Homo sapiens: one gene and its partners. The protein of the gene in region 2 purifies or fractionates together with the protein of the main gene of each other region. This does not show direct contact. Each region holds a gene or a part of one and is shown on either strand. Other genes may lie near its edges.

Region 1 (2,407 bases), on a different chromosome or scaffold from region 2:
GTCGGCTTTCCATTGAATTTCTGTACAACTCAGGGAACCCTGTTCTGGGCCAGGCACCCACCCAAAGGTTGGAGAGCCCTAGTGGAGCACACAGCAGCCTCTTCCCTGCTACACAATGTGGCAGGAGGCTAGGAGCAGCCACCCCAGAACTAGCCCTATGAATTCCACCAACCAGAGCACTCTGTCTGTAAATGGGTAACTCGTCCAAGCCAGCTGTGCCCTTGGGACTGTGTGGATGGCATGCAGTGACCTGAAGGCTCAGGAGGCCTTGGGGTGTGAATTGCAATAGCACAAGGGCATTTCGCAAGCTGCAGGGAGGCCTCCAGCATTCACAGCGAGATGGGCCCACCAAGTCACCTTTCCCCTCATGTGTCCAACCAGTTAGACCTTACCTAATCCATCCTGAAACCTGGGCACCCACTGCCAGTGTGTCATGGAAAATGCTGGGTTGACTGCTGCTGTACTCAGCAGAGCAGATTTTACCTCTCTACAGTTTCCACCTCTCAGACTCACCAGCCTTCTGCTTTGGGGCTCTCCACCCTTAGCTGCTCCTCCCAACCTTCCTAACCATGGCAGTCACTCCAGCCAGCTGACTGGGGTTTGCGTCCTGTTTCCGCCACCCGCCACCAGAGAGCCCAGGCCAGTATTCCTGCACTCGGAGCCTCAGCCTTGCACTTGTGAAATGCGTGATGGTGGTTAGCTCTCAGTGTCACATTTGGCCCCACATGAAATAATGTAGCTGGTGCCTGGCACATGGTGAGCACCCACTAGTACTAACAGTATTCATTCACTCATTCATTTGTTCAGGCATTTATTAAGCCCTTGCTGCCTGCCAGATGCTGGGCCAGGTGCCAAGGAAGGAAGAGCAAGAGTGGTGTCCACAGGGAGGGGCCAGACCGAAGCAATCAATCACCCATTGCCTTCATTAATTATGGTTGTGCTAAGCACTTAGGGCACGTGGACTCAGATGCCTCCTACTCCACAAGGCCAGCCTCTGAGCCTCTGAGAGGATGGGGTCCCTTGTCATGTCCTGCTCTGAATCAGACCCTTGTCTGCAGAATTCCAGCCTTGGGACAAAGCTGACTCAAGGTTCTCGAGGTAGGGGTAGCGGGGGTCGGTGTTGGGAGGCAGGAGGATCTGCTGCTTTGAGACCCTGAGGCTGGCCCTCTGACTGGTTCTTTGTAGACAGTGGACTTTTTACAAGAACAAATGAGGTCTCTGCATCTGCCTGGCCCCAGTGATTTGTTCAGGACCCGGGCCCTGACCTTCACCAGGCCTTGAAGCCGGTGGGTGCGTGGAACTCTCTGCAGAGTCACTCCCATGCTCCTGTACCTCCTTGATGTCCCTTCCTCCCTCCTCCACACCTCCACGGCCCCTCCAGGGCTCAGGCACTGAAGCCACTAGGAGCTTGCATTCCCTGGAAGAGGAGGAGATACCAGACTTTTGCTGGCCACCCCTTTCTGTGCAGTCAGTGCTTAGGAAGAGCTAGACCAAACTAGACCACCAACCTCCTCAGATCCCTTCAACAGACCTTGTTTTAGAAACCGAGCCTCAGCCCCACTGGCCCCTATACTCAGCCCAGGGAGAACGTAGGACACAGAATCCCCCCACCTCTGTGTCCATCTGTCCCTTCACCTCCATCTCTCACAAGTCACAACAAACTCTCCCCATCCCGTTCCCCAAGGTGGGAACTTCCCAGCTGCCCTGGCAGCCCCTGCAAAGAGGGCCCACATCCAGGGACAAACTTGTCCCACGAGGCTGCTGGGAGTTCCAAGAGGGGTTTCTCAGGAACTAAAAAACCTCTTTTTAAAATTGTGGTTTGAAGTGAGCGGGGAGGTGGAAAAAGAGTTTACAATGATTTTTTTCTTTTTTTTTTTTTACCTCCCCTGACGGTCTACAGAAAACCTCTGTGCTTTTATTTTTGCTCATTCGAGTGGCTCTGACCTGCTCTATAATTACGTTACTTTCTACCTACTGAGCCACGGCATTTCCAGCTCTGCTACCTCTCACGGCTTCCTCGCTGGTCCCTGTGACGCTGTCACTCAAGGGCTTTCAAGTCAGCGATGTAGAAATCAAAAAGAAAAGGGAAATGGTCGGAGACACAGTGAGAATAAATGCTCCTGCTTTTCTCTCTTTTTTCCCCTTTCCCTTTTTACTTTATTCATTTAATCTCCCTGAGTGAGACTGTAAGGCTTAATGAAGGGTTGGACAGATTATTAGAGGCTGTTGATTTGGAGGGGGAGGGAAGAAAGAGCCAGAGAGAGAAAGAGAGAAGATAATTTGACATTTACCCCAACTGATCTAAACTGACTCAGTTGTATTTATGGCTTATAAAGTGTTTAGAAAGATTGAAGCGGGGAGAAACTCAACATGGCAAGGAGAAGGGAAAGAAAAAAATAATATTGAC
Region 2 (3,500 bases):
GCTGAGGCAGGAGGATCGCTGAGGCAGGAGGCTGAGGCTGCAGTGAGCCGTGATTGCACCACTGCACTCCAGCCTGGGTGACACAGTGAGACCCTGTCTCAAAAAAAACAAAAAGAATCAAGAAACCAACTGCACAAAAGACATTCTTGAGCCAATCAGGAGGGTCTTAACGTGGCCCAGAATTAGATGTTAAGCATTGATTACTGTTGATCACGTTGTGGTTACATAAGAAAATGGCCTCGTTTTTTTAGAAACACAGATGGAAGTATTTTGGGATGAAATGCCCTGATGTCAGGGATTTGCTTCAAATACAACCAAAAATGGTATAGAAAAGGACAAATGGGGCTGCAGCACAGCGGAACAGCGCATCTTGGGGGGCCGTGTCTGGGGGTTCATGCTATTGTTCCTGCTTCTATGTAAAAATTAAAATAAAACACGATGGTACATGTTCCTTTCCTTTAGAAAACTTATAAAAGGGCCGGGTGCGGTGGCTCATATCTCCTGCAATCCCAGCCTTTTGGGAGGCCAAGTCAGGAGGATCATTTGAGACCAGGAGTTCAAGACCAGCCTGGACAACTTAGCAAGACCCTACTTAAAAAAAAAAAAAAGGGGCCAGGCACAGTGGCTCACACCTGTAATCCCAGCAGTTTGGGAGGCCAAGGCAGGCAGATCACCCGAGGTCGGGAGTTTGAGACCAGCCTGACCAACATGGAGTCACCCCGTCTCTACTAAAAATACAAAATTGCCTGAGGCTGAGGCAGGAGAATCACTTCAACCTGGGAGGCGGAGATGGCAGTGAGCCGAGATCACTCCAGCCTGGGCAACAAGAATGAAATTCCGCCTCAAAAAAAAAAAAAAAATTTTTTTTTAAGCCCTGTCTCTAAAACAAAAAAAAGGAAACTATGAAGTCCTACACGTCCCCTTCCCACCCCACTGCAGAACACCCCTGTGTTGGCAAATACATCTCTTTCTTTTTGATTCAGGGTCTTGCTCTGTTGCCCAGGTTGGAGTGCAGTGGCACAATCATAGCTCACTGTAGCCTCGACTTCCTGGGCTCAAGTGATCCTCCCACCTCAGCCTCCCAAATAGCTGAGACTACAGGCACACACCACCACATCAAGTTAATTTTTTTTTCTATTTGGTACAGACAGGGTCTGGCTATGTTGCCTAGGATGGTCTTGAACTCCCGGCCTCACATGATCCTCCTAACTCAGCCTCCCAAAGTGCTGAGGTTACAGACACAAGCCACCATGTGCCCAGCCAGTGAACCCACAACTTTCTAGCTGTTTTTTTCTTATACATAAGAAGCATGCGGGTTGCCACGGCGGCTCACGCCTGTAATCCCAGCACTTTGGGAAGCTGAGGCGGGTGGATCACCTGAGGTCATGAGTTCAAGACCAGCCTTGCCAACATGGTGAAACCCCGCCTCTACTAAAAATACAAAAATTAGCTGGGCATGGTGGGGCATGCCTGTAATCCCAGCTACTTGGAAGTCTGAGGCAGGAGAATCACTTGAACCTGGGAGGCAGAGGTTGCAGTGAGCTGAGATTGCACCACTGCACTCCAGCCTGGGCGACAGAGCAAGAATCCATCTCAAAAAAAAAAAAAAAAAAAAAAAGGAAGAAAGAAAGAAACATGCACAGATGTCCTCTGTCTCTGGATTTGCATACTGTTTTCTGTATGGCATCTTTACATGATTCCATGTCCCTAAAAAGTAGAATGGGACTGGCCGGGCACAGTGGCCCACACCTGTAATCCCAGCACTTTGGGAGGCCGAGGCGGGCGGATCATGAGGTCAGGAGTTTGAGACCAGCCTGGCCAACATGGTGAAACCTCATCTCTACTAAAAATACAAAAAAAAGGACCAGGCAAGGTGGCTCATGCCTGTAATCCCAGCACTTTGGGAGGCCGAGGCAGGCGGATCACGAGGTCAGGAGATCGAGATCATCCTAACACGGTGAAACCCGTCTCTATTAATAATACAAAAAAAAAAAATTAGCCGGGCACGGTGGCGGGCGCCTGTAGTCCCTGCTACTCGGGAGGCTGAGGCAGGAGAATGGCGTGAACCCGGGAGGTGGAGCTTGCAGTGAGCCAAGATCGCGCCACTGCACTCCAGCCTGGGCGACAATGCGAGACTCTGTCTCAAAAAAAAAAAAATTAGCTGGGGGTGGTGCCGGGCGCCTGTAATCCCAGCTGCTCGGGAGGCTGACGCAGGAGAATTGCTTGAACCCAGGAGGCGGAGGCTGCAGTGAGCTGAGATCCGCCACTGCACTCCAGCCTGGGCGACAGAGCAAGACTCTGTCTCAGAATAGGACCCCAGGGATCTCTATCTTCGGGAAACTTAAGGTGGCTTTCGGGTTTTGCTCCCCTAAGCTATAGCAAAGCTGCTATTCTTTTTTTGAGAAAGAGAGTCTCGCTGTGTCTCCCGGGCTGGAGTGCAATGGCACGATCTCGCCTCACTGAAACCTCTGCCTCCTGGGTTCAAGTGATTCTCCTGCCTCAGCCTCCTGAGTAGCTGGGATTACAGGCACCCGCCACTATGCCCGGCTAATTTTTTTGTATTTTTAGTAGAGACGGAGTTTCATTATGTTGGCCAGGCCGGTCTCAAACTCCTGACCTCAGGTGATCCACCCACCTCAGCCTCCCAAAGTGCTGGGATTACAGGTATGAGCCACTGCGCCCAGCCCACAATTGCTATTCATTATAACTACATTGCTTTGCATATCCACATGGATTCCTCCAGCTAAAACCTGGAGGTGGGATGTTTGGCTCCAGCAGCACAAATTCACATTCCCCACGCGCTCTGGATTCTAAGAACTGCAGCAGCAGAGGCGTCTGCCGGGCTCTGTATGGGTGCCTGGCTCAGAGCTGGAGAGTGTCTTCGTTTGGGCACCTTGATGCTGCAGGGACCTCAGCGGTGGGTGGCAGGCAGCACCCACAGGAGAGGGAGGCTGGTGGGTGGTAGAGCCCACACCCAGAGGACACATCCTCAATTCCATTTTTTTTTTAGAGATAGGGTCTTGCTCTGTTGCCCAGGCTGGAGTGCAAGTGGCCCAAGCATGGCTCTCTACAGCCTCCACCTCCTGGGCTCAAAGGATCCTCTTGCCTCAGTCTCCCCAGTAGGTGGGACCACAGGCACTCACCACTACACCTGGCTAACTTTAACATTATTTTGTAGAGATGGGGGTGGTCTCGCTATGTTGCCCAAACTCCAGGACTCAAGCAGTCCTCCCACCTTTGCCTCCCAAAGTGCTGGGATTACAGGGGTAAGCCACCACGCCCGGCCTCCCCATCCTGTTCCATCCTGACCCAACCATGCAGCCCCACATCTGCTCCACAGGTGGGGATCTTCATCCTACTTCACAAAGAGGGAGACTAAGGCCGGTGGTGGCATGTCCTTGCCTAAGGTCACACAGCAAGAGAAAGTAAGGGTCTGGCTGGCTCTCTGGACCGGAGGTGGGTGGCCCTCTTGCCACGCCCTTTCCCTGCCCCACCCTCTT
Region 3 (3,500 bases), on a different chromosome or scaffold from region 2:
CAAAGCTAGAAAACAGACACTGCTTCCTCCATTGTGCACGGCCCGACCCCTCCTAGAGACACTGAGAATTCCAGACAGTGGCGCCAGGAGCTGAGGTCTGCTGCTCCTGGCCTGGGTCAGAAGGATACCTCGTTCATACAGCCTGATTGCTTCCATGAGGTATGGAACCAGGAGGCGGTTCACAATAAACCCAGGAGTGTCCTGTTTTGGGAGACAGAAAAACAAAAAACTAGTAAATTTTCATTAAATGGTATCTTTTGTGAAGTCACCAAATTGCCCCTTCTTACCCTGGATCATGTTTGCCCCCATTTATCAAGCTGTACATTTTCAAAATTTGCAGCATGGCCTTATTTCTATCTCATATGACAATTTATCCAACAATCATAGTACTTAAAAAAACATTCAAACCCAGATGCCCCACTGCACAGATCCTGACATAAAGACAGATCAAGGCACAGGTGTGACCTGGAAGAGCATGGCTTTGGGAGAGACAGATTTGGGTTCAATCTTGAATACTCTCTTGGTCCTTCTGTCACTCTGAATCTGTTTCATCATCTGTGAACTGGGGGTGACAGTTTGTCTCAAAGTTGTGAAGATAAATCAGAAAACACATAAAATGCTGTACACACAGCCCTACACCCATCCCTTTATTCCTCCTCTTTCCTCCCAATTCCCTTTCAAGAATCGACAAAACGTCACACTCCACCTTGAATGGTCCTCAAAGGAGGACTGCTTTCCAGGCTCCTTGGAGCCACTCCTCGGCTACTCAGCAACTTCTCAGGTTCCAGCGCACACTGCAGTGGAGCTGACTTGAGGGCACGTGCTCCGACAAAGGAGCAGAGCCTCTGACAGAGAGCTGGCCTTTCACGGCACACCCCCTAAGACCTCTGCATCCTGCGGTGACCCCTGTGCCACATATGCCTTTCATCCATTTCCCTTCTCAGTAACTAACAATAATCATCTCTCTGGAGGACAGGTGTGGGATTTGGATTTTATCTACTGATCTCTTCCGGGGACTTGTAGAGAAAAGCAGGTGATTTTTTTGTTGAAGCTGATTTCCACTAGGCAAATGGTGCCTCCTCTTTTGTCAAAAGGCTGTGATCTTCCTGAGGGCAGAAATCCTCACCCTGGCCTGAACTCTGCATTCTGTTTCTAGCACACACCAGGTACTTCCTTAATGTCTGAATTACAGATGACCAGGCACTCCTCACAGAGCTAACCTGACTGCATGCGGGGAAACTGGACAGTAACACAAAGGATGTGAACCTCCTTTAACCCTAGGCAAACTGAAACCAAGCCCTAACCCCATCTATTGCCACATGAGCACAAAGATGCACAAACAAGTTTTATCAGCTTAATTAAGATTATGGAACAATACAGATTTTATAATTGAGGCAAAAATACTCTTTTCAACTTCAAAAGGTTCACTATAGACTCAAGATAGGGTACCTGAGAACATGAAGCTCCAACAGTTAATATCTTCTACAGAAAAAGCTCATAGAGCTCAATAAGGAAAAAGTGCCAAGACTCATTAAATATTTAAACTCACTGGCCAGTCGCAGTGGCTCACACCTGTAATCCCAGCACTTTGGGAGGCCAAGGCGGGAGGATCATGAGGTCAGGAGTTCAAGACCAGCCTGGCCAACACAGTGAAACCCTGTCTCTACTAAAAATACAAAATTAGCCGGGTGTGGTGGCACGCGCCTGTGGTCCCAGCTACTCAGAAGGCTGAGGCAGGAGAATCGCTTGAACCCGGGAGATGGAGGTTGCAGTGAGCTGAGATTGCGCCACTGCAATCCAACCTGGGAGACACTGCAAGACTCCATCTCGAAAAATAAAAAAATAAATAAATAAACTCACTAGTAATCAAAAAAATACGCATTTTTGCCAACAAGATTATCAAAGGTTTTTCCCCCACTGTAATAATATTTGATGCTATTGAGAATGCAGAGAGACAGATGCTATCAGTATATTGGTGGAATGTGAAAAGACACAGTCTTTTTTTTCTCTTGGCAGGGTCTTGCTCTGTTGCCCAGGCTGGAGTGCAGTGGCATGATCTCAGCTCACTGCAGCCTCCACATCCTGGGCTCAAGCGACCCTCCCACCTCAGCCTCCCAAGTAGCTGGGACCACAGGTGCACACCACCATGCCCAGCTATTTTTCTGTAGAGAGGGTTTTTGCCATGTTGCCTAGGCTGGTCTCGAACTCCTGGGCTCAAGTGATCCACCAGCCTTGGCCTCCCGAAGTGCTGGGATTATAGGCGTGAGGCACCGTGCCTAGCAGGAGACACAATCTTTAAATAAAGTAATTTTATTTTATGTAATCAAATTCATATTTTTCAGATTATTTATTAAACACATTTTATTTACTGTACTTACTGTGTGCCAGGTACTGTTCTAAATACTTTAAAAATATTAATTTATTCATTCCTCATAATAACCCTGTGACAGAGGTACTATAATTATCCTTATGTGAAGCATGAGGACACTGAGGCACAGCGAGGTTAAGTAGCTTGCCTAAGGTTACACAGCTAATAAGTGCCGGCACCAGGATTTAAACCCAGTTGGGCTAGTTCATACCCTTAACCTATATACCACAATCCCCTCATGAAGTCTCACTAGGAAGGCACATTCCAGGCACATTAATGCCCCTCTTCTATGTCAAGTATTGGTAAAGTACAATACTGTAGCCCACAGCCTGTTTTTGTAAGTCAAGTTTTACTGGAGCACAGCCACACTCATATTGCATATACTGTCTATGGCTGTTTTCATGCTACAACAATAGAACTGACTACTTGCAACAGAGACTGTATGGCTGAAAATATTCACTATCTGGTCCTTTACAGAAGTTTGCTGACCCTTGTCCTATGTAGTTGCCATATATTGTCCAGATGCCTCATAAAGAGCTTCAATAACTGACCCAGAAAGACCCTCTGAAAGCCCTTAGAATACCACACAGAGAGAGTTCTGGAATGACCTAACAAGATAATTTAATGAGAACAAAGAGTTCCCATCTCTGCAGCTGCCGTGGCCACTCTGATGGAAGACTGAATCATTACTTTGTAGATTAATTATTATGCTGCTGAAGATAATCATTAGCTTTTCCCTGTACTTCTGTTTCCATATCTTTTTGTCTTGCACAGATGTTCTTTTCAATACCATTACTACTTTCTTCCACTAACAAAGCATAACTGCGTAAGAAAGTACAATCATAACATCCAATTATTAATATGAGTTTAGAAATCTAGATGACTTAAAACTACAGAACCAAACAAACAAAAAATGGGTGTTAAAGCATGAGACTCCCTAACAACACTTTACCCATGGACGGGGAGGAGCAGGACACACAAGCCTGCTCTCTTTGGCTGCTGGAGTCCACCTCAACAGATGGCTTCTTCAGGTGATTCATGAACAACATGATTTTTCATGGGTTAGTACAGTACTGTAAGTTCAAACTCGAGAATATTTTAGAAAGCAAAAGTTTGCTATGAGAACTATAAT
Region 4 (4,037 bases), on a different chromosome or scaffold from region 2:
ATTTGTTCTTTGTTGCTCTCATCGCCACCTGCATGTTATTTTTTCATGTATTGTTTTATCACCTCCCTCAACCAGAAAAATAAGACCAATCAGAGCCAAGACTGTATTTCTTCACTGTTCTACCCATGGTGCCAAAAGCAGTGCCTGGAGCATAAAGTATGAATTAAAAAATTTGTTGAAGGGCTGGACTCTTCCCTTGTTCCTAGGTGAAGTAACAAATACCCAAGGGCTTATACAAATGTAGAGCCGGTATCCTAGAAGAAAATAGCTCTGAAAACTGTACTTATAATTTGTACTAACAGAAATGTTATCACTAAGTAAGATAATGTGAGAAATGGGGGAAAAAATCATAAGAAAACAAGAGCAGATGAAAAGACAAAAGGCTTAGATGAAAAGGAGCAATGGTCAGAAAGGATTTTGGATAAGGAAACGAAAATGATGGCAGAATTAAGGCATCCTCTGGGGACAGTGGAAAACAGAATTAACAAGGCAGAAATTGATAGTGGTTTCTTCATTCATTTATTCAACCACTGCATATTGAGGGCTGCCTCTGCATACACATCAGGCAGAGAACAAGGCAAAAGAACTGTATCTTCATAAACATGCAGTGAGATGAACAAGCCCACGTGCTGCTTATAGGAGTCGAAGCCAGCAGTGCCTTTCTGGAAACCACTTTGGCAATATATACTATGAGTGTCTTAAAATGCATAATCTCTGAGCAACTATTTCATGTCTATGAAAATAATATAAAGAAAGAGATGATCATAGAGTATCACAGAATTTACATATTTATATATAACATGCACATATTAAAATGTTTGATCTTAGAAACAAGTGAAAAATACACAGTAATGGAATTATCAACTAAATATTACCAAGGCCAAACAATGGAGCACTATGCAACCATGAAAAAAGATAAAAATAATTTTAAGAACATGGAAAAATTCACAATCTATACTTATAAATAATTATATGCAGAATGAATTCAAACACAGAGTTCTTGTCTTTGGAATTTGGGATTCAGAATTATATTCTTTATGCTTTGGGGCATTTGACAAGTTATCCTCAAGGAACACATTATTACTTTAATAATAATCAGAATAAGTACTAAATAAAATTTTTATCTCCCACATTAGCATTTCTTACATATTTTGAACCTATTCCAATACAGTTCTCAGTTCCTAGAATCCTCCATTCCACTTACATTATTATAAAAGATTCCAGTAAGTTTAAATTTTTGCTCAAAGCATGCTAAAGTTTTGTATCCTTGCATTCCCGCTCCAGATTTTTTAAACAAGAGACTACATTTTTTGCTTTATAGATATTCTAAGCTCACTGTTGTCTTCTCCTTTTATCATGGGGTTAGTAAAAGATTTTATTCAAATGATCCAACAATTCATCACTCTCACCATACAAATATATTGTATCCAAAAACATAACTTTATCAAAAATAAACTTCCTTATTAAAATGTTTCAGTAAACACATCCAGACTGTGGCATAGTTTCGAAGGTATACACCATGTCAAAATTTGTCAAAGTATACACTTTAAATATATGCAGTTTATTACATCAATTATACCTTAGTAAAGCTACTGGATAAAACATAACATCAAAAAAGGCCACATACTGAAATATGGCTAAAAGGCCTGAGGTCAGACACATACACCTAAGAAAAAGACGACCCACTCGTTAAATGCATCAGCAAGTTTATTTACAAATGCAATTGAACAGAAAGGCTCACCAGTTTCTGAAGAAGACTTCTAGTATACAAACCATGGTTATTTTTCATTAATGAAAATAAGCAGCTTTCTATTGGGAATTACTTAGCAACATTTCTGGTAAAGAAAATAGAGCTCCCTTCATCAAGCAAATAAATGGTACATTAACTGCATTTTTAAAAATCAGAATAATAGGTAGAAGGAAGGATACAGAAAGCACATTTGGGGATAGATTTTAATGAAATTTTCCATATGGTTCTGCATTAATTTAGAATACATTACAATAAACAGAGCAAATGCAATTATGTATTTATATTAACTATTTCAAATAATGTTTAAGAACCTTTTTTTAAAAAACAATAAAATACCCTCTTCAAAACACCACTAACTAGAAAGTCAAACTAGATCATTATCTGCCTCAAAAATATTCGTAGGTTCTTATTTTTTCCCTTGTGCTCTCAAGATGCTGAATTCAACAGGTAAATACTGCACTTTTCCCCACACACAATTACCTTATAAATAAACAACAAAAATACTGGTTCTACCAAGACTACAATGCTTCTATGTAATCTAAAGAGGCAAAAAAAGTTATTCTTTTTTTTAAAAAAAAAGCAAAAAAGACATACAACACATATTTATAGATCTACATGAGCAGCAACCACCTCTTCTTCTATCTGCAACAGTGCTTTCGTATGGAGGCTTACATCACATGGCGGTTGGCCGTCCAGCTGATCGGGCAAGGAGAAAAGAAAGAAAAGTGCTTAGATTCAGAAACGTGAATATTGCCATCTGGGATACATAGCAGTCATCACTCAGAAAGTGGCCCAATGAGGTAGAAAGAGTAACCTGTCACTCACTCTTAGGATAAAGCTAGGCAAGTCTCAGTGTCTCGTCTCTGGAATTCTTTATTTGTAAAAATGGAGTAAAAATGAACTGCTCACAATAGAAATAAATTACACTCAACTCTCTATTATTTGTTTTGGAGGAGAGAAAAGGCATGGGCAATTTTACAATGGTGATTCCAGAAATCATTTCTATTTGGCTTTGGAATTTGATGAGAGAGAGAAAAACACACACACATACACACACCCCCCACCAGTACATGCCCAGCCTTGACTTTCTCCAACCTCAGTGTCAGCATCCAGGAAAGGACTGGACAGCTGCAGCAGGAAGGCTCAGAACCCACCGACAGATAAAAGAGAGTTGACTGGGCTTAAACCATTTCCAAAGCACTCTTCACATAGGGGCCATATAAATACCTCAGAGTTCAAAAGCAAATGATTTTGCTGATACCACTTGTAACACCCTTTCACAATAAGGAAGAAACACATGTTACCAGCATCAAGGTTTAAAATATAAAACAGCAGTAATACTTGTCTTGCTGTAGCTATACACAACACACAACCTAGTTATGCTAGCCTACCTTTTATAACACACAAACACATGCTTAGATGCAAAGTAGCATTTGAAGTTTTTTGAAAAACTCATTTTTTCCAAAAATGACACTGAAACACCATAGTTAATACTTTCCTTTTAAAATTATATATTGACATATATTAACATAAAGCATAAACTGACTTATTTTGTATTACATGGAACAATATTTTTTAAAGTTGGTCATATTCTAAATCACATAATCAAAGCCCATTGTTAAATAATAGAAGTTGATGAGGGACCAATCTTTAGTCAAGAAACAAATCCTACATAGAAGATTCATTTAAGTGTTTTGGTTTGTTTGTATTCTTGAGTCATTAAAGGTCTCTGCGGACTCTGGGCAGATAACACAAGACACCATCCTGACTTTTGGACACTGTTCCTCTCCATTCCTTGGCCCCACAACCCACTCCTGTGTAGCTGGAACCCTGAGCAGTGACCCATTCACTATACACACTCTTTGAAGGGAACACACTACAATTCTTGAAACCTGGAATCCTATGGCAGTGAACTTGGAGGGGAGCTCGCTGCAGGTTCAGGGAAATGCATGGGAACCCGTGGCCTCCTTAAAAGGCAAGAAATTTTCTCTCTGATTTGCTCTCTTACATTTGAATCTGAGATAGCAGTCGTTGCAGTACAGTTGGTGGTTTCTGATCCTGACTTCAGCTCCTGAGGAAGAGCCTCCGAGGTCACACTCACAGGCAACACACTGGGGAACAAAAAAAAAAGAACATCTACAATCAGTCAGCTCAAGAAAGCTTGGGGCACTCCTGGGGGTGGGGGGGAAATGAGCAGAATGCTACTTCTAAGCTCTTAGATACATTTCAGCAAAGAAAAAAAAAGGCCGAAAGATGATTAGTAGATTCAAATCAAGACCGCCAGATA
Region 5 (3,500 bases), on a different chromosome or scaffold from region 2:
ACAATTTTCACCTTATGTGCTGACTCATCCTGTATAAAGATGCAACTACTATTCTACCTTTTTGTGTCCTGTTTTACTTCTATGGTTAGAAAAAAAGCAACAAATCTACTTTTCTAAACAAGTATTTAATATGCTTGCACAGAAAGACAGGAATAATAATATTTGGAGTAATGCATAATTTTCCAAAACCTGCCCTTCCTGTATCTCCTGTCTTCGTGAGAGCACCATTACAACTCTTAGGCTTCCAAGCCAGAAACCTGTGGGTCTTTAATTTACTCTTTTCTCTCAAGCCCTAATATCCTATCTCCTAATACCTTTCATATTTGTCCCCTTTTCCTTTTACCACTGGATTAATTCAGGCTCTAGACTACTCTAATAGTCTCCAAATTGATATTTTTCTTCTCTTGCTGAGCTTGCAATCCATTTTCTGGAATATTTCTAAATCAGATTTCATCATGGGGGTTCCCAGCCTCTCTATGTTACAATCTTCAAAGGCTCTCCTTACCTCAAAATAAAATCCAAACCCTTTCATGATCTAGTCCTTTCTACCATCTACCTTTGTGGACACAGATATTTATCAATTCTCTATATACTTCCTGAGCTCAAGTATGCTAAGCACTTTTCAGGCACCCATGTGTCAGAACTCAGGCTCATTCTTTAAAAGACTTGGCTTATGTTCCCACCTCCTCAGTGAATTCTTATTTGTCTCTGTCTGTTCTCTATGCTTTCAGAGCACCTTCATCATCACACTGACTTACATAGCTGTCTAATTTATTCAGCAGTGAGTACCTCTGAAAGAAGATATTTTAATTCCACATAAGTTCATCAACATACAATCACTGTTTTAACCAATCAGTCAAATGAATAAAGCTAGAAGACATGAGGACTAATGAAGTCAATCGCTTTCACTAAAGTCACATAGTTCTTTTATTACTGGCTGCATCGCTGGCACAGACCAAGTCAGAGTTCCTTAACAGCACGGACAACAGAACTTTGAACAATGATAAAATTTTTGCATATCTGTGCTGAAGGACCAGTCAGAGAGTTCCTTAATAGCACTGACAACAGAACTTTGAGTAATGACAAAATTTTTGCATATGTGTGCTGACCCACAGTTGCCATCAGCAACACATGGCTTTTGAGTACCCACCTGAACTGTGCTCAAAAGGAACCAAGTTCTAAGTTTTATGAATTTTATTTAAAGGTCAAATGTGGTTGCTGTGCTGTACTGGACAGCACAGCTATAGACAATCTGCACTAGAGATCCAAAAACAACTGAAACCACCAACTTGAGAATAAATATCGTAGGTGAAAATGGTACAAATTGTGAATAGAGATGGTCTCAAAACCTTTAATTAAAAAAAGTGTAGTACTGAAAATGTAGTTTTATAGCCTGTTTATCAATATTTACAAGCTGAAATATTTTCCATTACCTTTCCACTGGTTTGGTTAAAATGGGTGCTTATAAGACAGCTTTGAAGATGTTTACCAGCACATATTTGTGTTATCTTGATTCACTGCTATCCTTTCCTTTTCAGTCCACTGAAAACTGAATTCTAGATGTACTAATATGATTTAAGGGTATGTGAAGAAAATGGGAATGGAGAAGGAGGCACAAAGAAGCACAGAAAAACAAATATGCTGATTAAAATAACAGATGTCAGGGCAAGAGAATATAAGATAATGTCTGAAATGAATATAGGGACCAGAAAGAAAAAAGGCTAAAACTCAAGAAATCAAGTAAAAATGAATGTTAATTTGCTACTAGAGACTCACTAAGAACGAATGTCTAAAATAAGTTCTATTTTAGAAAGTATTATAAAAAAGACATTGTCTAATAGAGCATAAAAACGCTCTGAACAGAAAATCAGATCATAGAATAATGAAAATGAACTAGTAAGAACATAACAGTCTAAGTACTTTTAAAATATTACTTCGCTTCACCCCCAGAAGGAGTTATTTCCTCTACCAATGAAGAAATCCAAATAAATAACCTGCCTAGTCACACAACTAGTTAATGATGGGCCAGCATTCAAATTCAAGTTCTTTTTACTGTACTTATGAAAATATACAGATTGCTGTAATGCACTCATTGGATTTCTAGCTGAATTCTACATTATTTTAAACTTAAAAATAGATTATCTTAATATTAGTATTTGAGTATCATTTTAGTTTTACTCCAATGCTTGAGATCAGAATGCATAATTTAGTGTATATTAATTTAAGCCTCCATTCCTGAAAACTACAGTAATTCCCTAAAATTTCTCTGCTTCCCCATTTTTCTGCTTCAAACTCTTCTGGCACAAGGGTATCAGAAGAATATTCTGACGATGTCAAAACCATCATTCCCATTCACCTAAAAGATAAATTCCAAACTTCTTACCCTAAAACTCAAGAAGTTTTATAATATAGCTCCAATATACCTTTCTAATCTTAGCTCCAGCAATTAGCCATTCAGAATCTCCATTAGAGTCAAAACAGCTCTACATAAAGTTCCTCAAATATGGCTTGTGCTTCTCGTCTCTCTTGCCCCACCTAAAATGCTTTTCCCTATTCAAAAGCTTTACTCCTCCCACAATCTCAATTTTGTGAAACCTTCCTGGGCTCATCTATCTTCTGGCCCAATGATCTCTCCCTTCTGTGGACTGCAGTACTGATATAATAAAGCAAACATATGGCATTCATTATCTATTGGCTTGTGAATTCTGTATCCTAACCATTGTTTATCTAATTGACACGTGTTTTGTTTCTTCAACTAGGAAAGTTGAGAGTGGAATCTATGTCTTATACATTTTAAAATTTGCTAAGTTTTAGCAGTGCTTTAGAGGTGGCGTAGATAACTGCAGTCTCAGTTTCTAAGAACAAATACAACCACTTCCTCACCAACCCCAGTACATTCTAAGGCCTAGAACTTAAATTTACAAAAACACTGCTTGCTTCTAAAGTCTAACACATTAGCTAAGTAACTCTTAAGAATTGCGAATACTATATATTCACAATACTCTCAACAAATAAAACATGCCTAAAATAATCATCAGCTTACCGACAATATGGGTTTCTTCGAGACGAATATCGAAGGGTAAGAAATCTATAGTATATAAAAGGTTGGAGCAAACTTCCTTGACCACTGAAATAAACAAATACAAGCGTGATAAATATACATTTCAATTCATGTGTATACTCTCAAAACTTAAAAGCAATTCAACTGGAGAATATGTGTATCTTCATTCATCAAATGGTCATAGTGAAATCTATCATGTCTAAATCCAAGTTATCCTTAAAAAAGGATATAAAAGAATGTACATGATTGGTAAAGAGTAAAATGTTGTTTAATTTTTTTATAAATGTATTCTTATCTGTATTACTTTTGAAATTTTTTAAAATACTAAATAAATCAGAAAATGTTAAATAATTCCGTAATTACTAATTGATGAAATCAAGTTGTAAAGCTTCATAAAATATGCAAATGAAAAGTGACTTATTTTATATATATAAAAAGA
Region 6 (3,362 bases), on a different chromosome or scaffold from region 2:
GGGGCGGGTACAGGCTGCTCGTTCAGGAACATTCTCTAAATTTGGGGCCCCAGAAGGGCCTGGACACGAACCTTTAGCAGGCCGCTGGGCTTGCCCAAAGAGGTGCTGTGGGAAGCCAAGGCCAGCCTGGCAGCCGGCCCTCTGCTCTGGCCCAGCGGGGCTGTTCTGGGGGCCTGCACCTGGCTCAGCTGTGTCCCGCTGGGGCCCTGTGCCTTTAGCTAAGGAGGTACATGCCCTGCTCCGGGGCGGCTTGAGTTTTTTCTTTTCCACCCAACCATTCTAGCTGCCCCCTCGTTCCTGGCCCACACATGGCATGGGGCAAACACAGCTCCACATGCCAAGGCCTCCAGCTGTGCAGGCCTAGGCAGCTCCTTGGCCGCCCAGGCGTCTCGACAGTGCAGCCGTGAGGGCGGCTGGATGCAGCAAGGGCTCGTGTTGGGGACACGAGGGCCAGTGTTACGTGTGGGGTGGAGGCGGGGCTGGAAATGTGTGTCCCCCACTGTTTCACCCCACTCATCTACTGCAGACCGACATCTCACGAGGGCCTGCGGGAAGTGGCTTTAGGTTTCTGTATGTCTGTGAATCTAGGAAATGATGAGAAAGCGGATAAAGCGGGGCCACCAGGAGCCAGGAGGCCCCTTCACCCCTGCCTCTGAGCTCTGCACAGGTCCCTCTGCGTGGACGGTCACTTCCTCCTCGCCCAGCTCCCTCCTCCTGTCCTTCACAGCACCACTGATGTCTGAAGTGAAGACCACCTCTTGTGTCCCGTGAGTCCCCAGGCCGGTGCTTGTGGCACCTAAAGAAGCTCCATGTCTATCTTAAGGGGAATGTTCTTTTTGATTAATCAGAGGTATTAACATGCCCCTAATGAGTCCATTTGCTAATTGTATTGTTTAGGGGTTGAGAAAACAAAATAAAGAGTTGATATGTCTGGGGTTGGGTGGCCGTGAAATGAGGGTAATGATGATGCCCCTTCCTTGGGAGATTAAATCAAACAATGCATTCCCCAGGCTTAGGCAATTGATAGTAGTTATTAAGTGGATGGCACTGGCCAGAATACAGGGAGATACACACTCACCCAGCAAAATGATAGCAAACCTCAAACAGAAACCACCAGGCACTGTATACGTGCACATGGCCACGGCTATTCATCTTTTAAAATAAATAACTCTCTGGTTAGGCCTCTCCAAGTCTGTGGTTCTGGGCTTGTGGGTGGAAAAGTGCTTGGCTGTCTGCTTTCCAGCCTCTGAAACTGCCCAGGAATTCTCTGAAAGCCCCTCTGTGGTGACTTCTCTGAAGGTGTTGTTTCTTCAGAGGACTGTCTGTAGGTGGGGACCGTGGGCCAGGCCCTGGGCTGGCTGAATGCCCCCTCAGGAAAGCTTTCAAGGTGGAATGACACATTTCTGGTCATCCACTTTGCTAGCCAACAGGGCAAGCTGGAAAACGAGATGGGTGAGGACGTAGGAGAGAGTGAGAGGGTGAGATAAAGCTTCTGCAGGCTACGTGTACCCGTGCACTGGGAGAGACACTAGGGACACAATGCCCCTTTTCTCCCCCAGTTAGAGCCCTGGCCAGAACATGCCGCTGTTTTCAGGAAGGAGGGAAGCCAAGGCCCCCTTGTTCCTCCTCAGGGCTGGCCTTCCACCCAGAGTATGTGGAAACAAATCTCGGCAACCCCTCTGACAAAGAAGTCACCTGGCCAGGCTGTGTCTCGTGTTCAGTATTTTATTCTTATAGATTCACTTTGCATTGAGAATGGCCCCTTCTGCAGATCCTCCTCTATGAGGCAGATATTTCCGGAAGAGCTAAGTCACAGATATTTGCAAGTGACTGGCTCTTTATGAGTTTGCTTTCAGTCTTGAAAGCACAGACCAAGGCAGCCTAGGGCACTAGGAGAAATGGGGATGGTGGAGACAAGAGCTCCATAGGAGACAAGAGGTGTGGGTTGCCTGAGCATGTATGGAATAAACTGGCCGGAGGAGCAAATCTAGCCTGCTGATGAGTTTTGATTTGCATGCACCAGGTGTTAACTCAATCAAATGTGAATGCCTGTGGTGTCTCTGGTCCTGTGCACGCCCTATTTCTCAGGCCCCCATGCCTGATATCTTTGGGTTAACTGATGGACCGTGATGGCCTCTGGGGGTAGCACCTTGCCCTTTAGACAGCCTGACTTCCATGCCCCTGTGTGGACACCAATGGGAAGGAGCCTGTGGAGGTGGCCTCCCCTCCTCCCCCTGCAGGGCTGGAACCCCTTCCCACCCACCTCACCTGGAACAGGTAGTCTCCAGGGGGCACGTCAGTGATGTCAACCCACTGGCAGTCGATGTCATGGCGGTACATGTCCCAGCAGCCCATGGTGATGCCCTGATCGCCGAAGTTGGCACACTCGTAATTCTTCTGGATGTCTGCGGGCAGGGTAGAGGAGAGCTCATCACCAGGGAACCATGGCCCCACTGCCGCACCCTCTTCCTGCTTCCAAGGCCCCTACCGCTGCTTCATCTGGGCTCGGCATCCCACCCCACTGTGTGGGCTGCTCATCTGTTCTCATTTCAGTAGAACCCCCCACTCAATTCCCTACCCACATCCTGCCTCTTCTCTCAGGCCAGGCTCAAGTTCCCCTTCCTCCATGAAGCCCTCCCTGACCACTCTGATCCACCCTGGCCTTTCTGTGACATCCTCAGCCTGGGGATAACTGCGTGTGTGTGGACCGAGGAAATCTCTGGTGCCTGTGGTTTAGCAAAACGTGGGGGGTCATACTGTCTGTCTCCTCTGGAGGATCGGCAATTAGAGTGTAGGCCCATGTCTCTCTGACACTTACATGTTATCTGCACATGGTAAGAGGTCAACACCTGTCTGCTGTGTGATTTCACGGCAAGTCAGTGGCGGGCCGCTTCAATGAATAACAAATTAAACACGCATTTACTGAGAAGCTGCCATGCCTGGACACTGCTGTAAACAGTGGGTCTAGCAAGAAGAACTGACATGTCTCCCCATGAAGAGCCCCCAGGGCTGCAGGTGCACTAACAGGTGATCACAGGGCAGGTGTGGTGACCTACCAGAAGTGTGAGCAGAGTGCCACACCTGCCGGGACGGGGGGGCGCTTCAGAGGAGGGCATTTGAGATATAATTGAAGGGTGACACCTGGTGTGGTAGGGACACTTGGCATTGGGACACCAGAAAAAAGGTTGGTGGCAGCCAGAGTGGGAGGGGCATACGCATCAGGGTCTAGGCTGCTAAGCCCAGATGGAGCAGGGTCCCCAGAGTCTGGATCTTGTCCAGGAGGCCCTGTGGACCGACCAGTGCCTGTCAGCACAGCTCTGGGGAATCCGGGTGCCCTTGGAACCAGGTCATGCCCATGCCCC
Region 7 (3,049 bases), on a different chromosome or scaffold from region 2:
CCCGTTTTTATCCCTGGCTCTCACCTGATCATCATCTTCCTCTTCCTCCTCCTCGTCAGTATCCTGACAGGCTGTCTACAAGAAGTAGCTCAACTTAGCGGAGCTTTCACGCCCCTTCTCTTTTCATGGGGGTAGGGGGTGGACTTGTAGCCAGTCCCCAACCGAGGCCCAGCACCTCTCCTTCCCGAAGCCCACCTGCCCTGCTCACCTTCCTCTGCAGCACAGCCTTGAGCACGCCACAGAGCTCAGCGAGGCGCCCAGGGGGCTTCAGTGTGAGGGTCCCACAGCTGCGGAGCACCCCTGTCAGGGCCTCCAGCACGGCCATCACCACCTGGCGTTCCCGCTCCCTGTTCACTGCCTGCATGTAGGATGGCACGACTCGGGCCAGGGCAGCCTGCAAAGCTGGGGACATTATTGGCTGAAGCACCAGTCAGGCCCTGCCCCTCCCCAAGAACCCCCAGCCTGGCCCAGCCTCTCCTCACCAGCAGTGTTGGGTTCCGAGGGGCAGCTTTGACAGGCCTTGTGCAGTGCACAGCAAAACTGACCCAGAGCCTCATGGGCTGCCTTCCGCACATTCAGGTGAGGGCACTGCAGGATGAGGAGGGGCGGGATATGTCTGCTATGTGCACCGTGAACACAGGGCCCCCAGCCTGAGAACCCCACCCACTCCACCCGCCGGCCCGCTCACCTCCAGCAGTTTAAATACTTCTTCAAAGACACTTTCCATGTATGGAAGGAAGGCCACACTACAGAGAGAGACACAGCCGTGGGTAAGGGGCCCCCAGGCAGGGTTTTCAGTGCCAGGGAAGGGCGAATGCTCACCTGGTGTTCACAGAGATCTCCCCCACGGCAGCACAGGTGTCTTCCTTCTCATCGAAGAAGGCATTCTCCACGCTGTACCTAGAGTAAGAAGGGGAGGCAGTGGTGATCAGGCACCAAGAGGAGCAGATCCAGCACTAGGCCCTTGTCTAAAGCCAAAGTCTAGATTCCTGATCAGAAGAGCACCCCTCCGCACCCTGAGATCTCTGAGTCATCCTCTTCTTCCACATCCTCATCCATGAGCTCCTCCTCTTCTTCCCCATCACTCTCATCGTCAAACAGAAGGAAGGAGCTGCTCCCGTCATACTGAGGCTGGAGCGGAGGCACGGCAAGGACTTTGGCTCAGCTGGGCCCAGGAGATAAATCCCATTGCAGGGCAGGCCTGGCCCAGCCCACCCACCCTTTGCTCACCACAATGCCCTCGGTGGAACGCAGTGACAGCAGCATGAGCGTGGTGATCTGTTCCAAGTGGGGCGCCAGGCCCTCACCCATCAGACCCGATAAGGCTGCAAATAGGCTGTACCTGGTCAAAGCAGGCAGAAGAAGCTGTAAGGTCCTGCCTGCTACCACCAGGCAGGATGGGGGAGCCCGGGAACACCTGGCTATGGTCCAAACCAGACGACTGGAGTCTGGGGTGGGGATTCCAGTGGGTCCAGTGGGAAGACAGGAGGGGAGGGGACAAGGGCAGAGGCAGGGTGAGGGGTCACTCACGTGCAGCGCCGCAAGTCAGGGTCGTCTACCTGGTCGCAGAGGCCCAGACCCAGCTGGCAGCATTCCTCAGCCAGCGGCCTCATGGGCTCCCCCACTGCTCGTGCCAGCACCCCCAGTGTCTCTGTGGGGGCAAGGGCTCCATTAGCACCAGGAGGTGGAGGTGGGCTACGGGACCAAAGGTGGTGGCTGGGAGGGATTCAGAAATCCCGCCCCACCCCTTGGTACAGCATGAAGCACACCCCTTTGATGAGAAGGAAGACATCCGTGCTCCTGTGGGGGCAATCTGTCAACACCAGGTGAGCACCAGCCCTTTGCTGGCACTGGGAGCCCCACCTGGGAACCTCTCACTCACCCAGGCTCTGGATCTGCACAGGCTGAAGGTCCTCACGGCCTGTTAACAGGAATTCCCGCAGGTGCTCCATGATGGCAGGGAAGTAGGGCAGCAGCGAGGCCTGGGCAGCCGTAGCTGCAGGATGGAAGGACAGAATCAGAGCTGGAGAGGGCAGGGACCACCAGCCACAGGGCCTTTGGGTGAACCCCACATCCCTGCCTCCTGCCTCTCTCCTCACCAATGGCTCCCAGGGCGCTCACAGCCAGCTCCTTGGCCCGGGGACTGCTGGGGTTCCTCAGAAGCTGCAGCATGCATTCCATAAGCTCCGGAAGGTAGGGCTGCACCTTGGGCCCTGTGGGAAAGGATGCTCCTCTACCAACCAACCCAGGTCTGCTACCTGCACGCCCACCTCCCTCCAGGCGGAAACCTTTTTTTGGCACCATCACACCCTTTCCCCTACCACAGGCAGCAATGCAGGGAGATGCACATCCTGTACATTCAGCCAAAGCCGCCGCCTCATCCCCCTTCCCCAAGCTCCCCACTGCCATCACTACCTAGGTTCTCCACAAAATTCTCCAGGGCATAGCAGGCCTTGGCTAGGTGGTGTGTGTGTCCAAGAGGCACCGACTTCAAGTAGGCGAGGAGCAGTGGCATTACCTCCCTTGAATAGCTGCTGATATGGGGCTGGGGGAGGGAGCAAGCAGGGCCTGAGTCAGGTTCACCTGCCGGGCACACACAAGAGTGCTGATGGCAGCAGGGATGCTTGAAGAGATGAAAGATGAGGGGAAGGGGACATTCAAGTGGTGGCTCCCACATTCAGCCTGGTTCACCTGTAGGTTTTCTGAGAACTGGCCCAGGGCAAACAGCGCAGCATTGCGTACAACTTGCGAGGGGTCCTCCAGGCCCTTGCACACAATCTGCAGCAGTGGGGGCAGCAGTCTGGATGGGGCAAACAAGAGGACATAGGCTGAGAAGCTACACCTGAGAGCCCTAGGCTGACCTGTTCTCTTCATTTTCCCTGGAAAAACCAAGGCTTTTCCTGTCACCAGAGGGTGGGCAGCAGCCCCTGGTCCCTATAGCTGGTAAGCCATGTCATTTATCTTCCAAGCCAGGACACTTTTGATAATGGGGGGAAACGCTGTTGATAAATAAGCTTGAACAACAAGCGTAAACCAGGACAGCCATGGT

The links.
Region 1: the proteins of FSCN1 (region 2) and ASS1 fractionate together in Homo sapiens (co-fractionation; one large-scale study listed by BioGRID). This does not show direct contact.
Region 3: the proteins of FSCN1 (region 2) and HADH purify together in Homo sapiens (affinity purification with mass spectrometry, with the first as the bait; one study listed by BioGRID). This does not show direct contact.
Region 4: the proteins of FSCN1 (region 2) and LMO7 purify together in Homo sapiens (affinity purification with mass spectrometry, with the first as the bait; one study listed by BioGRID). This does not show direct contact.
Region 5: the proteins of FSCN1 (region 2) and TMEM33 purify together in Homo sapiens (affinity purification with mass spectrometry, with the first as the bait; one study listed by BioGRID). This does not show direct contact.
Region 6: the proteins of FSCN1 (region 2) and LOXL2 purify together in Homo sapiens (affinity purification with western blotting; one study listed by BioGRID). This does not show direct contact.
Region 7: the proteins of FSCN1 (region 2) and IPO4 purify together in Homo sapiens (affinity purification with mass spectrometry, with the first as the bait; one study listed by BioGRID). This does not show direct contact.

Annotation. Positions count from the first base shown.
Region 1 is NC_000009.12:130,496,961-130,499,367, reverse strand, and holds part of ASS1 (argininosuccinate synthase), read right to left. Parts: intron 1-2,407. UniProt on the Homo sapiens protein: One of the enzymes of the urea cycle, the metabolic pathway transforming neurotoxic amonia produced by protein catabolism into inocuous urea in the liver of ureotelic animals.
Region 2 is NC_000007.14:5,599,316-5,602,815, reverse strand, and holds part of FSCN1 (fascin), read right to left. Parts: intron 1-3,500. UniProt on the Homo sapiens protein: Actin-binding protein that contains 2 major actin binding sites. Organizes filamentous actin into parallel bundles. Plays a role in the organization of actin filament bundles and the formation of microspikes, membrane ruffles, and stress fibers.
Region 3 is NC_000004.12:108,024,389-108,027,888, reverse strand, and holds part of HADH (hydroxyacyl-coenzyme A dehydrogenase, mitochondrial isoform 2 precursor), read right to left. Parts: intron 202-3,500; coding exon 129-201; intron 1-128. UniProt on the Homo sapiens protein: Mitochondrial fatty acid beta-oxidation enzyme that catalyzes the third step of the beta-oxidation cycle for medium and short-chain 3-hydroxy fatty acyl-CoAs (C4 to C10).
Region 4 is NC_000013.11:75,856,330-75,860,366, reverse strand, and holds the end of LMO7 (LIM domain only protein 7), read right to left. Parts: intron 3,862-4,037; coding exon 3,759-3,861; intron 2,447-3,758; coding exon 2,424-2,446; coding exon of another isoform or gene 2,354-2,423; 3' UTR 501-2,353; downstream 1-500.
Region 5 is NC_000004.12:41,948,929-41,952,428, reverse strand, and holds part of TMEM33 (transmembrane protein 33), read right to left. Parts: intron 3,128-3,500; coding exon 3,044-3,127; intron 1-3,043. UniProt on the Homo sapiens protein: Acts as a regulator of the tubular endoplasmic reticulum (ER) network by modulating intracellular calcium homeostasis. Mechanistically, stimulates PKD2 calcium-dependent activity. Suppresses the RTN3/4-induced formation of the ER tubules.
Region 6 is NC_000008.11:23,299,759-23,303,120, forward strand, and holds part of LOXL2 (lysyl oxidase homolog 2 precursor), read right to left. Parts: intron 2,406-3,362; coding exon 2,269-2,405; intron 1-2,268. UniProt on the Homo sapiens protein: Mediates the post-translational oxidative deamination of lysine residues on target proteins leading to the formation of deaminated lysine (allysine).
Region 7 is NC_000014.9:24,182,768-24,185,816, forward strand, and holds part of IPO4 (importin-4), read right to left. Parts: intron 2,801-3,049; coding exon 2,692-2,800; intron 2,546-2,691; coding exon 2,416-2,545; intron 2,214-2,415; coding exon 2,100-2,213; intron 1,997-2,099; coding exon 1,883-1,996; intron 1,652-1,882; coding exon 1,531-1,651; intron 1,343-1,530; coding exon 1,231-1,342; intron 1,132-1,230; coding exon 1,016-1,131; intron 901-1,015; coding exon 823-900; intron 747-822; coding exon 689-746; intron 589-688; coding exon 483-588; intron 403-482; coding exon 209-402; intron 76-208; coding exon 25-75; intron 1-24. UniProt on the Homo sapiens protein: Nuclear transport receptor that mediates nuclear import of proteins, such as histones, RPS3A, TNP2 and VDR. Serves as receptor for nuclear localization signals (NLS) in cargo substrates.